Linked DNA regions of Homo sapiens. The protein of the gene in region 1 interacts with the protein of each later gene in a pairwise test. Each region holds a gene or a part of one and is shown in the gene's direction. Other genes may lie near its edges. The genes, in order: FCHO1, KRTAP13-4, ZBTB16 and DNAJC5.

Region 1 (3,868 bases):
TCCTAGAGGAATCAGAAGATCCCAGGGGACCCTCAGGGATACTTCAGGGACCCCAACCCCCATGTGGCTGATCACAGCCCCTGCATCTATTTCTCTTCAAACCCTTTTCCTGCAGGAGCTGCCTGGAGTGGAGCTGAGAGCTCAGGTCTGGGCTCAGCCAGTCCAGAGTGCAAATCTACTGTCCCTTCCTAGCTGTGTGATCTTGGCAAGTGACTTCCCCTCTGGGGGAGGGGAGGGCTCAGTTTTCCCATCTGTGAAGTGGATCAGAGCTTTCCTGTCAAGGTTAGGGGTCATCCAGCACTGCTCCTACCCACTGCTATGAACTCTTATACATGCCTAAAAACCCCACATTCCATGCCCCCTCCTCCAATCTAGACTCCCTCAGCTCTTGTCCCTCCACCTAGTCCAGTTCTGACTCTGTGGAATTGGGGGCATCTGTGTCTTGTTCTGTCCCCCTCTACTGGAGCTACTTGGGACCAGCACTGGGGCTGAATTATCTCAGGGGTCCTGGCATGCTCTTAGCATTGGAGCTTTCAGTTCCTCCTTCATCCTTTCTCTCCTTCCTCTACAGGGAGGGACTTTCCCCCCACCAAGCCCACACTGGCAATGACTCTGTAGCTCAAACTTGCCTCTCTCTTCAGACAGGCACTGGACGGGGCCTGCAGGGGTCTCCACAGAGACCATCAGGATGTCGTATTTTGGGGAGCATTTTTGGGTAAGACCCACTCTTATTTAGGCGGGGGATGCTGGCAGGGCTGTGGGGACTTTTATGGAGATGGGAGGACTGGGTGAGTTGCGGTTACAGCCTTGGACAGGTAGAGGATCTGCAAGGGATGGAAGTTAAAGTGGGAAGAGTCAGGCTGGGTTTGAATCCACACCCACCCCAGACCTCACAGGCCTTACAACCTTGGGCAAGTCATAGCTTGTGTCATAGGGAGACCAAGGGCCAGAGTGGGAACGTCTAGGCAACCTGAAGTTGCCCCATGAAAAAGTGCAGAGTCAGTGCTCAAACCCAGGGCCAAACTGAACTTCCAGGACCCAGGGTCATTCCAGCCAGGGAACTTCCACCCCCTTCCCATCCTGGAGAATTGGGGGGTTTTCCTGACCTGGCGTCTCATGGCCTGTGCACCCCTCCACTGTCCAGGCTGGAGATCACCTCCTGTAGCCCAAGGGCTGCTGAGTGAGACAGAGTTGTTTTTATTCATTCATTTCCTCTCTCCCTGCCACTGTGACCTCATCCCCAGCCAGCCCTAGGAGATGCTGGGGTCTCCAAGAGAATCCATCCCAGCCCCAGCCCCAAGGGAGGAGTCCCCAGTCTGGGGGACCCAGAGCCAGCTTAGACACCTTCAGCCCTGCAGGACCAGGGCTGAACCCAGCCTTGGGGGTCCTAGAGTAGGAACCAGGACACAGAATCGTGTTTGCTGTGAGAAAGCCTGGGCAAAAGACCAGAGATGTGACATTGAGTGGCAAGTTCAGGGAACAGGGACTCCTCCTGCAGAGCCAGGCTAACAGGGTGCCACAGAGGATGGGTGAACAGGGGAGGGCCCAGGAGTCAGGGAAGGACCAGGTCAGAAAGCCCCTTCCCCAGTTGCAGGCCCTGAGCTTGCAGTGAGGAAGCCTGTTGCTAGGCGACTGGTTGCCCCTGGCAACAAGCCCCACTCCTGCCCTTGCTCCCTCCCCAGCTGGGGCTCCTCTTGAAAGCACTTGCTTTCTTAAAGGGGCCGCACTCCCTTGCCACCTGCAGGGGTGTGACCTCCGCCCTCTCTCCAAAGGTCAGACTCCCCGATTTGCCCCTGAAAGGCTGTGTGACTCCAGTGAGGGGCTACCCCTTTCTGAGCTCCTTTTAGTACTGCCGTGTAATGGAGGTGACCATTTGAGGATCAAAAGTCACCTGCATTTTGGAACCCCGACAGTGGCACCTACATTTATTTTAAATCCTTTTTAATTGTGTGAGGCGTGCAGGCTCGCTGCAGAAAATTCAGATCAGCAAAGAGAAAATAGAAACCACCCCCGACTTCCCCACCTCACCCAAAGATATCCTGGTAGAGAATGGTTAAGAGCTTTGAGTTCAGGATTCGAATTGACTCTGCTGGAAGCCCTTGAGCAAATGACTTTGCCTGCCCGAACCTCTGTTTCCCCATCTGGGAAAAAGGGATGAAATTCCTGCACCGCCACTCCCACCCCATGCACCCCACACACCCCCAGACTCAGGGAGGCCTCCTGTGACATCTGTCATCAGTTGCTAGTATTGAAGCCGCCATAGAAGCCTGGTTCTTTGCTGGGTGGTGCTGGGGAGATTAAGCCAAACAGGGATGCCCCAGTCTCATTGCGCCAGGGCAGGGCCGAAGCATGAAGTGTACTAGGGAGCCATGGGGGAAGTGTGAGCAGGAGAGGGACATAAACAAGCTCTGTTACAAAGACCACACTCTTGGCTGGGCGCAGTGGCTCATGCCTGTAATCCCAGCACTTTGGGAGGCCGAGGGAGGCGGATCACCTGAGGTCAGGAATTGGAGACCAGCCTGGCCAACATGGCAAGACCCCATCTCTACTAAAAATACAAAAATTAGCCGGGCATAGTAGCATGAGCCTGTAGTCCCAGCTACTCGAGAGGCTAAGGCAGGAGAATTGCTTGAACCCGGGAGGTGGAAGTCGCAGTGAGATCGCGCCACTGCACTCCAGCCTGGGTGATGGAGTGAGACTCCGTCTAAAAAAAAAAAAAAAAAAAAAAGACCACATTTTGGCTGGCACAGAGGCCAAGTCTGAAGTCTAGAAGTTCTGGTGGGAGAGACAGACCTGAGACAGCCCCTCCTAGGACCCTCGGCTGCCAGCCCAGTCCAAGAGAGGCAGACGCTGCTGGGGGTTTGCCAGGTCTGGGAAACGGGCCAGCAGTTGGCTCTGAGTCAGACCCAGATGCTGCTCTGGGCGGTGGTGCCTGGTGCAGCCTCACCCGAGGATCTCCTGGGGCCAGCACTGTGCCAGCCTCATCCCAGCAAGACCCTTGGGAGTTGGGTGCTGTTGTTGTCCCCATTTGTCACACAAGGAAGGAAACTGAGGCCAGAGAGACGAAGTCACCAACCCAAAGTGACCCTGTACGTATAAGGAGATTGGACACTTGAACTTTGAAAATATAATTCCAAACACAAGAAGAGAAAATATAGGTGGAGCGTGGTAGCTCACGTCTGTAATCCAAACACTTTGAGAAGCTGAGATGGCGGATCGCCTGAGCCCAGGACTTTGAGACCAGCCTGGGCAACATAGCAAGACCCCGTCTCTACTAAAAATACAAAAAATTAGCTGGGTGTGGTGGCGCGCACCTGTGGTCCCAGCTACTTGGGAGGCTGAGGTGGGAGGATCGCTTGAGCCTGGGAGGCAGAGGTTTCAGTGAGCCAAGATCATACCACTGGACTCCAGCCTGGGCGACAGAGCAAGACCCTGTCTCAAAAAAAAAAAAAAAAAAAAGCCGGGTGCGGTGGCTCACACCTGTAATCCCAGCATTTGGGAGGCCGAGGCAGGCGGATCACAAGGTCAGGAGATCGAGACCATCCTGGCTAACACAGTGAAACCCCGTCTCTACTAAAAATACAAAAAATTAGCCGGGTATGGTGGCGGGCACCTGTAGTCCCAGCTATTGAGGAGGCTGAGGCAGGAGAATGGCGTGAACCCAGGAGACAGAGCTTGCAGTGAGCCAAGATCGCATCACTGCACTCCAACCTGGGTGACAGAGTGAGACTCCGTCTCAAAAAAAAAAAAGAGAAAACGTATTCCTGGCGAGCTGGAGGGAGCAACAGTGAAGTGGGGGAGGGGGTTGAGCAGGGTTAGGGAAGTTTCTAGAGCAGGTGGCAATGATCCTTGGGAAGTGGAAGGATGT
Region 2 (3,028 bases), on another chromosome or scaffold:
CCAAACCTACTTACTAAGGTACAAGGTTAGGGGAAATCAACTGCCATTGAAAAATAGAAAGTAACTCACTGAATAGATATTTGAATTGGCCATATTTGCTTCTTTCTTCATTCTTCCTTCTGGAAGGCCTATATTAAGTTACTTTTCAATATTGCCATACATTTTAATTGAGAAAATTTAATCGAGAAAATGTCTAACATTATTGTTGTAAGTTTATTATATTTTATTATAAAATAAAATGTCATCAACCATGACAGTACACTTTCTTTGGTCCTGAATATAATTTAACTACTTGTATTTCAACATAGAATATTTTGTGAATGAACTTACAAAGTGGCTATCCTCAAAGAATACGACAAAGCTGTCCAATTTTTATTTTTCAACATGGAATCTATAATTCAGCAGAGGCAAACAAACACATGAACAAAACATAAAATATAACAAGTAAAAAAAAGAAAAAAGATAAAATCAAACTTAAGCACAGAAAAAAGAAAGAAAAATAGAGGGAAAGAAAGTCAGAGGAAGAGAGAGAGAAAATAAGAGAGAAACATTCATATACCATGCAGAGGAAAAGAGGACTGGGGAACAAAGAAACTTCACATTTTCACAGGAAAATGTAGGATGGTACCTGGTTCTACAAGTGGCAAAAAGACACTGAAAGCCAGTAATATGGAAAGCTAGAGCCATTCTAAGAAGGTAGAAGTCCTGTATAATTACAAAAGTAGATGATAAATATATCAAAGTTCATAAGATTTGCTAATTTTGAAAATTTTTGCTCATAAAGACATTGAGACAAGACACATGACAGCTGGAATGCAATAGGAAAAAAAATTCTGAAATTCCTGAGCTTTCTCTTTGTTTCTCTTTCACTTGTTTCCTCCCTTCAGCAGACAAGCATTCGGGCTCTTTGGCTGAAGAGACATGACCTCAAATTGATCTTCTCTGTGACTGTGTTTCAATCGAGCTTCTTTTTGTTATCTCGTCTTTAAATAAATGGCAAGGTTTCTTTCAATTTCTAGCCATTTCTTTCTATCTCTTTGCTTTGCCTGTTCTTGATCTTTCTTCACTGGATATGAGACAGACTTTATAACTGTAGTACTTAATGTATTAATTTACTCTTACCGCCCTAAAAAATCACCACAAAGTAATTTTGGAGTATAGCAATCAATGGTGACAAGATGGATCATTTTCACAAAGGTTCTCATCCAGGTGGAAATTGCACCAGAAAGAAACTAACGTTATCTCATTCCCCACTCTTAAGAGGAAAACATCTACTAGCAAAGCCAGATGTGAATACACAGGAAAAGAGGCAGTTAGCATGTGCCAAAGAAATAGGAAGAGCTTTCCTTGTCATGATGAGCTAGACATTAATATAAAACAGTCATAGCATTTCTGACATAAGTACAGTTCATTGGCTTTGTGCTATAACACGAAAATTATAGCACCCATAAATACAATACATGGAAAACTATTCAAATGCAATTACAGACAAGATTACGCAGTTACACATATGTAAATGAGGGATCACAAATATGTAAAGGATGACCCTGTTGGGCACCACACCTATTGCTGAGAGGATATAAATGCCCTTGTCCAGGATGCGACATTAAAACTCAGAATCTTCTTAGGTACACTCAGCTGAACTCCCATCTCTCATCAGCATGTCCTACAACTGCTGCTCTAGAAACTTCTCCTCCCGCTCCTTTGGGGGCTACCTGTACTACCCAGGCTCCTACCCCAGCAGCCTGGTCTACAGCACTGCCCTCTGCTCTCCCAGCACCTGCCAGCTGCGTTCCTCTCTCTACAGGGACTGTCAGAAGACCTGCTGGGAGCCCGCCAGCTGCCAGAAATCCTGCTACCGCCCCAGGACCTCCATCCTCTGCTGTCCCTGTCAGACGACTTGCTCTGGATCTCTAGGCTTTCGGTCCAGCAGCTGTCGCTCCCAGGGCTATGGATCTAGGTGCTGCTACTCGCTGGGAAATGGATCCAGTGGCTTCAGATTCCTGAAATATGGAGGCTGTGGTTTTCCTTCCCTGAGTTACGGATCCAGATTCTGCTACCCAAACTACTTGGCTTCTGGAGCCTGGCAGTCTTCTTGTTACAGACCAATCTGTGGATCTCGCTTCTATCAATTCACCTGCTAAATTTCTAGATCCTTTTGAGTATTGGGATCAAAGTCTCTACTGAATGCAGCCATTATTTTCATTCTTGCCAGATCCCAATATCTTTTTATTCTTCCACCACCAGCTTCTTGCATGACCAACTTCTGGCAGACTGCGAAATTAATGAGTAACCTAATATTAACTTCTAATATCTTTACCATTGATCGAATATATGCTATCTGATTTTCATCCAAAAACTGTTGAAAATGGAAATTTTAATCTAATAAATGTATGTAATCTGGTACCCAAATATATTGTTCACATTGTTATTATTTTATTATTATTATTTTGCTTACATTTTTGCATTCAAGAATTTGGGAGATTTAAGTAAAAATCAATATGACTGTGTAACTGGATTTGGGGCCCATATAATCTGACAGATCTGAGAACATTTCTCTTGAAATTAGGTATGTTGTCTATTAAGAGTAATCATTTCTGGAAGAACATAGTTTGCATCTGCAGACTTGTCTCAACAGCAGTGAGAATTGTCTAAGAATGAAGGACATGCATTTCTACTGATATAGGAAAGCAGAAAATTTGATGCATAAACTAGAAATGCAGACAACAAGACTAGGATGTAATTTATAAGGTAAACTGTATGCTTGCACTAAAGGTTACTTAAAGTCTAGTATCTGAATGTGGATTTTCAACCAAGAGAAAAGTGAAGCTTAAGCACTGCTAGGACAGACGCTTTGCTCTTTGTTAGTAGACTTAAGTGCCAGGTTTCCTGCCTCCCACTGGTAAGGAGAGTCAGGATCATTCACCAATGATCTTAAGTGGGAATTATTGGGTCCAGGAGGCTTCGGTAACCTACCGATGCTTCTTCAAGGCTCAACCTTAATCAAGCTGACAGCAACACACCTGAG
Region 3 (3,868 bases), on another chromosome or scaffold:
TCTATGGAACAGAGCGTTTTGAAGATTGCTTATAGGAAGTGGAGTAAATAACAGGGGGGATAAGTAGCGAGTTTGTTTTTTTTTTCCTTGCTTCTGTCATAAACCACGTGCCCATCATTTTATCCTCTAGTTTCTGGGTCAGATGAATGGAGTCAAGAAATCCAGCTTTCTGTTGTCATTGACGACAGCATTTGGCTGCATACCCTGTGGTCTGCTGTTTTGCTGATCTTGGGTGGATTCTCCACTTCCTCCCCCTTCACCCCCATTCCCCTGTTGCTCGTTCAGGTACGGGGGATGTGAGTGAGAGGGGTTGGGGTGGGGATATCTGGAAGTTGATCTCATCACCCCTAGCCGGAATCTGCTCTGACCCTGCCTCCTCGACAGCTCAGAGGCTTAACTTGTGGAAAGTGTGGCAGAGCTAAACGTAGCCGACTTTTTCCAGTGGGTGCGAAAAATAACCGCCACTAAGGTGTGTCTTCTTGATGCTTGTACCGCTCAGAAATAGACTGAGGTTGTGTTTGTTTTTGCTCAAACTTTCCTAAAGAGGAAACCCGCTCCCCAAAGTTGACCAGATAGATGTATCATCTTTCCGGATGTGAATTATTTCGGCTGTGTGCTATGAGAACTGGGTATGGTGGGAAGTAATTGTTTTTCTGGCTCTCATCAGGTCCTGGTTCCTGGTTGCTTTTCTTTACCCGAGAGGGCCACAAAAGATACCACTCTCCTGAGACTTCCAAGTTCCCCTTCAGCAAGACCCTCATTCCTCTGGGGAGAGAGGGAGAGTTGGCCATGTTATATTCGAAAGAGCCTGGGTATTGGAATTGGCCATATTTAGTGGTGAGAGCCTGTGATACTTATTTAACCTTTCTGGGCCTTGTTTCACTCACTACATTTTTTTTTTTTTTTTTTTTTGAGACGGAGTCTCGCTCTGTCACCGGGCTGGAGTGCAATGGCGTGATCTCAGCTCACTGCAGTCTCCACCTCCCGGGTTCAAGCGATTCTCCTGCCTCAGCCTCCTGAGTAGCTGGGACTACAGGCACCTGTCACCCCGCCCAGCTAATTTTTTGTATTTTTAGTAGAGACAGGGTTTCACCATGTTGGCCAGAATGGTCTCGATCTCTTGACCTTGCGATCCATCCACCTCGGCCTCCCAAAGTGCTGGGATTACAGCTGTGAGCCACCCCGCCCGGCCTTCACTCACTTCTTAAAATGGAGACGGTCAACAGGGTTGGTGCTGAATTAATGAAGTAAGATCCAGAAATCACTAGAGCTGTGATGGGCACATAGTCACCGCAGCGGTGGAGAACTGACCATCTGTCCCTTGTGTTGTTTAGGCCTCATCTCTGCATGGTCCTCATTGGCTCTGAGTTCTAGTGTGTAGTGTCCACAGTGCCACCCTCCATGAGGGTTGTGTTGACTGTGAGGTGGTGCAGAGAATGTCCCTGTCCTTGTGAGCATATGACAGCAAGACACTGGCCCTGGAATCCTCCGTGTCACATGTGGGCTGCTGACAGGAAGAATGTGCTTTTGTTGTTGTTGTTGTTGTTGAGGCAGAGTCTTACTCTGTCGCCCAGGCTGCAGTGCAGTGGCATGATCTTGGCTCACTGCAACCTCTACTTCCCGGGTTCAAGTGATTCTCCTGCCTCAGCCTCCTGAGCAGCTGGGACTACAGATGTGTACCACCATGCCCGACTAATTTTTGTATTTTTAGTAGAGATGGGGTTTCACCATGTTGGTCAGGCTGGCCTGGAACTCCTGGCCTTAAGTGATCCACCTGTCTCGGCCTCCCATAGTGCTGGGATTATAGGTGTGTGCCACCCTGCTGGGCCGAGAATGTGCTTTTGACTGAGGGTGGAAAGTCAGCAGCTGCAGCCCAAGAAGTTAGAGCCAGGGGCAGTGCCTTTGATGGGAAGCTTGGGGGTCTAAAGAAATCAGAAAGGGGAGAAAATAATCCTGCGTGTGCTCAGCCCTCACTCAGATCAACAGCCCCTCGGGTCCCAGCTAGATGTACTTTGTAGAAGGCTTTTTTTCTCCCCCTCACCCTCAAAACTCCAGGATTAATGTGCTATTCCCTTTTTTCTACTGTTCTCTGTCTCCCCCCAACCCATCAGCAGTCTGAGAAATGCTATGGTGGAAAAAAAAAAACAACAGCCCTATAACCAGTACAAACAAAAAGCCAAGACAAAAAAAAAAAAAAAATCAGAAGGGGAGATTTTGAGGCCAGGAAGCCATGGCATTCACTGGAAATATATCAGTGATAAAATAACAGGCTACAGGGTTTATTTTATTTTATTTTTAAGTCAATAGGCCTGAGTGTTGGTAAAGACTAGATACCCAGCAGTCCTTCTTGCATTTCTTCTTGGGGTGGGGGGGCAGAAGGGAATGGAGAGGAAATGAAGGCGGATTGCTGGTAAGTGAGGCAGGAAGGCAGGGAGTTTATTATGGAATGTCATCGGTAAGTTTCCCCATGATTTGATCCCAAGCTGGTGTGGAGTGAAGGGTAAGCTGTTGGCTCAACAGATAGTGAGAATCAAACTTAGTGGAGTTGTAGAGCCTGTTTCCTGCAGCGGACAGCAAGATGTACAAGCCGTCCACTGCAGGAATGACGTGCTGTAAAAGGGATGCAGTGTCAAGTGTAGTCATGGATGGGTGGGAAGACCAGACAAAGGCATCCAATGGGACTGACTTACCTAAACAAACCAGAAGGAAGTCAGAACAGTGGGAAGATCTGATAGATAAGCAGTATTCTGCAGGCAGATGAAGGAGCAAGCTTTGGGCCCCCAAATCTTCACCAGTGCATCCACATTACAGAGGATAATGCCTGAGGGAGGGGAAGATCATCTCAGGATTCTGGAACACTGGGCCCTCCCTTTCTTATTCCAAAAGGCTGGAGCAGTTCTGCATGTAGGCTTCTCTGGAAATGGTCTAGGAACCAGCTCATCCAGGCCAGGAGCACCTGATCATTCTCAGAGTTACGTACATATGCGATAAGATTGCAGGGAACAGTATAGTTCTATAGACTTAAGTGTGAACATAGTCCTCATTTATAGTCCCTAGTCTCCCATGGCTCACGCAGCTTGGTCTTTATGTGTTTCTGAATTTAGTGCTGCAGAGGCACAATGGGGTCTGGTTTCTGGATCTTATACAGACAAGCACTTAGGTCAGCTGCAGTGGATGTCCTGCACAGACACCGTCGCAACTCTTGCCTGGTTCCTTTTTGTTTTTGGAGATGGAGTCTCGCTCTGTCTCCCAGGCTGGAGTGCAGTGGCGCGATCTCAGCTCACTGCAAGCTCTGCCTCCCAGGTTCACGCTATTCTCCTGCCTCAGCCTCCCAAGTAGTTGGGACTACAGGCACCCGCCACCACGCCCGGCTAATTTTTTGTATTTTTAGTAGAGACAGGGTTTCACCGTGTTAGCCAGTATGGTCTCGATCTCCTGAACTCGTGATCCACCTGCCTCGGCCTCCCAAAGTGCTGGGATTACAGGTGTGAGCCACCACGCCCGGCCTATTGCCTGGTTCTTGAAGGGATTCTCAGGAACCACAGGGAATGTCTGAGCCAGCTTTCTGGATCCGTGTGTACAGCCCTTCCCAGAGGCTTTGTGGAGCCAGCTGTACGGTGCATGAGCTTTGTGGCTAAGATATCAGAGTTCTGCCTGGCCCTTGGCCTTGGTCTCTCTCAGATGGTCAGCTGCTCTGTTTTTAGTGGTTGATCATGTAGAAGGCCAACAGGTGTTGACCTTGGTTTAGGCTACTTTTGGGATTTTTGAGGTTTCCTGAGACTCTTGGTTTTCTTTCATCATCCCGTCCAGAACCTCTGATGTCAAACTAAATTCTGTTTGGAAAAGGGTATGCTGTAGAATAATGATA
Region 4 (3,868 bases), on another chromosome or scaffold:
AGCGCGGCTGACTTCGGGGAGAGCTCTCCCTGCCCTGTGCCTCTATTTTTTCACCAGGTAGGGTGGAAATGTGTTCTAGTGAAACTGCAGAACGAAAATATCCCGTCTTACTCTTGACCCTTGAAGAAGCAGGAGCTGAATTCAGGTGCCAGAGGCTGCGTCCGCGCGCTCCACATCAGTCTCAGAGTGGAGGCGAGCCCAGGCCAGAGGCCTCTACCCCGGACGAGGCTGCAGGTGCCTGACGGGAGGAGTGACTGCAGCTCAGCAGAGGGAGTGTGTGGAGTGTGCGGCCCTGCCTGGCTTTTATTTTGCTCCTCCTGTTATTGGGAGGGATTAGCAGCAGAGCGAATGTTTGGATCTTTGCTGAGCAGTCCCATCGGATTTTTCTTTATTAAATAGGATTGTGTTTTATTGTAAGAAGGTTTCCCTAAGACAAATAACGAAGGAAATTCTGGGTCCAGGAGTACAGACTGTAGCTTCTGTCATCTCTTGCCAAGTTCGTAGCCCTCAGATGGTGTCTGTCTTTCCCCTTTGCTTGCGGGGCCTTTTACCACAGCACTTTGGTGTTCTTTTAGCTGCTGCGATAGGACTAGCTGTTAAAATCTGAGATTTTACATTTTTGCCAGTCGCAATAAATTTTGTTAGTTCTTTCTTGATGTGTTCTTTAAAATAATAATGCTTTTTTTTTTTGGGTGGGGGACAGAGTCTTGTGCTGTCGCCCAGGCTGGAGTGCAGTGACGCGATCTCGGCTCACTGCAAGCTCCGCCTCCCGGGTTCACGCCATTCCCCTGCCTCAGCCTCCCGAGTAGCTGGGACTACAGGCGCCCGCCACCACGCCCGGCTAATTTTTCGTATTTTTAGTAGAGATGGGGTTTCACCGTGTTAGCCAGGATGGTCTCGATCTCCTGACCTTGTGATCCGCCCAGCTCGGCCTCCGAAAGTGCTGGGATTACAGGCGTGAGCCACTGCTCCTGGCCTCATCTTTTTTTTTTTTTTTTTTTTTTTTGAGACGGAGTTTCACTCTTGTTTCCCAGGCTGGTGGAGTGCAACGGTGTGATCTTGGCTCACCGCAACCTCTGCCTTCTGGGTTCAAGTGATTCTCCAGCCTCAGCCTCCTGAGTAGCTGGGATTACAGGCGTGTGCCACCACACCCAGCTAATTTTGTATTTTTAGTAGAGATGGGGTTTCTCCATGTTGGTCAGGCTGGTCTCGACCTCCCAACCTCAGGTGATCCACTCACCTCGGCCTCCCAAAGTGCTGGGATTACAGGCGTGAGCCAACGCACCTGGCCTCATCTTGTTTTTTTTTTTTTTTTTTGAGACAGAGTCTTGCTCTGTCGCCCAGGCTGGAGTGCAGTGACTCAGTCTCGGCTCACTGCAAGCTCTGCCACCTGGGTTCATGCCATTCTCCTGCCTCAGCCTCCCGAGTAGCTGGGACTACAGGCACCCGCCGCCACGCCCAGCTAATGTTTTTTGTATTTTTAGTAGAGACGGGATTTCATCGTGTTAGCCAGGATGGTCTCGATCTCCTGACCTCGTGATCTGCCCACCTCGGCCTCCCAAAGTGCTGGGATTAGAGGCGTGAGCCACCGCGCCCTGCCACATCCTGTTTTTTTTACAACAGGGTGTCACTCTGTCTCTCACCCAAGTTAGAGAGGAGTGACACAGTCTTAGCTCACTGCATTCTCCCAGGCCCAAGCAATCCTCCTATCTCAGCCTCCCAAGTAGCTGGGACTTTAGGTATGTGTCACCACAGTTGACTAATGTTTTAATTTTTGTAGAGATGGGGCCTCCACATGTTGCCCAGGTTGGCCTTCCTGGGCTCGATCCTCCTGCCTCAGCCTCCCAAGGTGGTGCATGCCTACAGTCTCAGTAGATTAGAATCACCCTAACCCTCAGTAACTGAGATTGTAGGCACGCACCACCTCACTGACTCACCTCAAACTCTCTTTTTTGAGATGGAGTCTCTGTCACCAGACTGGAGAGCAGTGGTGCGATCTTGGCACACTGCAACCTCCGCCTCCTGGGTTCAAGCGATTCTCCTGCCTCAGCCTCTGTAGCAGCTGGGACTACAGGCATGCGCCACTACGCCCGGCTGATTTTTGTATTTTTTAGTAGAGACGGGGTTTCACCATGTTGGCCAGGATGATCTCGATCTCTTGACCTCATGGTCTGCGCACCTTGGCCTCCCAAAGTGCTGGGATTACAGGTGTGAGCCACTGCGCTCGGCCCATCTCAAACTTTTAATAAGGCTCTTCGTATAGAAATTTTTAAAAAATTAAAAACATTTTTGGCCAGGCTTAGTGGTTTAAGCCTGTAATCCCAGTGCTTTGGGAGGCCAAGGCAAGCAGATTACATGAGGCCAGGAGTTTGAGACTAGCCTGGCCAACATGGCGAAACCACGTCTCTACTAAAAATACAAAAATTTGGGCAGGTGCAGTGGCTGACACCTGTAACCCCAACACTTTGGGAGGCTGAGGTGGATAGATCTCTCGAGTTCAGGAATTTGAGACCAGCCTGGGTAACATGAGGAAACCCCATCTCTGCAGAAAATACAAAAGTTAGCTGGGCGTGGTGGTGCATGCCTGTGGTCCCAGCTACTCGAGAGGCTGAGGTCAGGCTGAGGTGGGAGGATCCCTGGAGCCTGGGAAGCGGAGGTTGCAGTGGGGGATGAAAAAGAATACCCCGTGTCCAAATAGCAAAACACTCTGAAATGAGGCAAACCGTGGTTTGTTGAACAGGTGTTCTGGGACAAGGTTGCCGAATATGCATTAGCCGTAATCCCCAGGACAGCCATGCAGGGTGGGTCTTAAACAGTTTTTTAGATTCTCGAGTATAAAGGTATAATATTGAAGAATAAGCACAAATAATGTCATCATACATGTTAAAGTGACAACACAGGATTTACAAAATTACCCTTTTTTCCCCAAAATTACCTCTTACGATGTGGTTTCTGTTGGTGCTGTTTTCTCTTGCATCATCCCGCCAGGTTGGGTAACCCTAACTGATTGTCACCAGCAGACCAACAGACAGACTCACAGCATCCTTCTCCCTGGTGTGAGCACTGCTTAATTCACATTTATGAAAATACTTTAAGACAAGGGCACTGTAACTCACATAGAATCTGAAGTGGCCTTGAACAGGGAGCTGGTCCAGCTGCCTCTTAGTGTGTCTGACCTCCAGGTGGGCGGACTGAGATGCGTGCAGGTGTTCATGGTATAGGCATCCTTGTAAACCTGCTCTGGTTAAGGATAAATAGGCAAAGTTGTGCTAATGCTGTTCCTACAGCAGCCTTTGCCCTGGACTGACTCCAGAACAGCTGGCTGACTGACAGCTGCCTCCCAGTAAAGCCTTAAACAGGCTTATCTTATATTTTTAAAAGGCAAAGGACAATAAGGCAGATTAATAAACTGTGGGGGTTTTTTTGTTTGTTTTTGTTTTTCTTGAGACAAAGTCTCGCTGTTGTACCCCAGGCTGGAGTGCAACGGCGCGATCTCGGCTCACTGCAACCTCTGCCTCTCGGGTTCAAGCGATTCTCCTGCCTCAGCCTCCAGAGTAGCTGGGATTACAGGTGCCCGCCACCACGCCCGGCTAATTTTTGTATTTTTAGTCTAGACGGGGGTTTCACCATGTTGGCCAGGCTGGTCTCGAACTCCTGACATCAGGTGATCCGCCTGCCTCGGCCTCCCAAAGTGTCAGGATTATAGGGTGAGCCACCGTGCCTGGCTTTTTTTTTTTTTTCCTGTCTTTTGTGTATGTGATGGGGTCTCGCTCTTGTCGCCCAGGCTGGAGTGCCATGGCACGATCTCGGCTCACTGCAACCTCTGCTTCCCGGGTTCAAGTGACTCTCCTGCCTCAGCCTCCTGAGT

What was found.
Region 2: the proteins of FCHO1 (region 1) and KRTAP13-4 interact in a two-hybrid assay, tested with the Homo sapiens proteins (one large-scale study listed by BioGRID).
Region 3: the proteins of FCHO1 (region 1) and ZBTB16 interact in a two-hybrid assay, tested with the Homo sapiens proteins (one large-scale study listed by BioGRID and IntAct).
Region 4: the proteins of FCHO1 (region 1) and DNAJC5 come close enough for resonance energy transfer, tested with the Homo sapiens proteins (one study listed by BioGRID).

Annotation. Positions count from the first base shown.
Region 1 is NC_000019.10:17,754,477-17,758,344, forward strand, and holds part of FCHO1 (F-BAR domain only protein 1), read left to right. Parts: intron 1-115; 5' UTR 116-205; exon of another isoform or gene 206-282; intron 283-641; 5' UTR 642-688; coding exon 689-715; intron 716-3,868. UniProt on the Homo sapiens protein: Functions in an early step of clathrin-mediated endocytosis. Has both a membrane binding/bending activity and the ability to recruit proteins essential to the formation of functional clathrin-coated pits.
Region 2 is NC_000021.9:30,428,615-30,431,642, forward strand, and holds KRTAP13-4 (keratin-associated protein 13-4), read left to right. Parts: upstream 1-1,605; 5' UTR 1,606-1,661; coding exon 1,662-2,144; 3' UTR 2,145-2,412; downstream 2,413-3,028. UniProt on the Homo sapiens protein: In the hair cortex, hair keratin intermediate filaments are embedded in an interfilamentous matrix, consisting of hair keratin-associated proteins (KRTAP), which are essential for the formation of a rigid and resistant hair shaft through their extensive disulfide bond cross-linking with abundant cysteine residues of hair keratins.
Region 3 is NC_000011.10:114,065,878-114,069,745, forward strand, and holds part of ZBTB16 (zinc finger and BTB domain-containing protein 16), read left to right. Parts: intron 1-3,868. UniProt on the Homo sapiens protein: Acts as a transcriptional repressor. Transcriptional repression may be mediated through recruitment of histone deacetylases to target promoters. May play a role in myeloid maturation and in the development and/or maintenance of other differentiated tissues.
Region 4 is NC_000020.11:63,901,377-63,905,244, forward strand, and holds part of DNAJC5 (dnaJ homolog subfamily C member 5), read left to right. Parts: intron 1-3,868. UniProt on the Homo sapiens protein: Acts as a general chaperone in regulated exocytosis. Acts as a co-chaperone for the SNARE protein SNAP-25. Involved in the calcium-mediated control of a late stage of exocytosis. May have an important role in presynaptic function.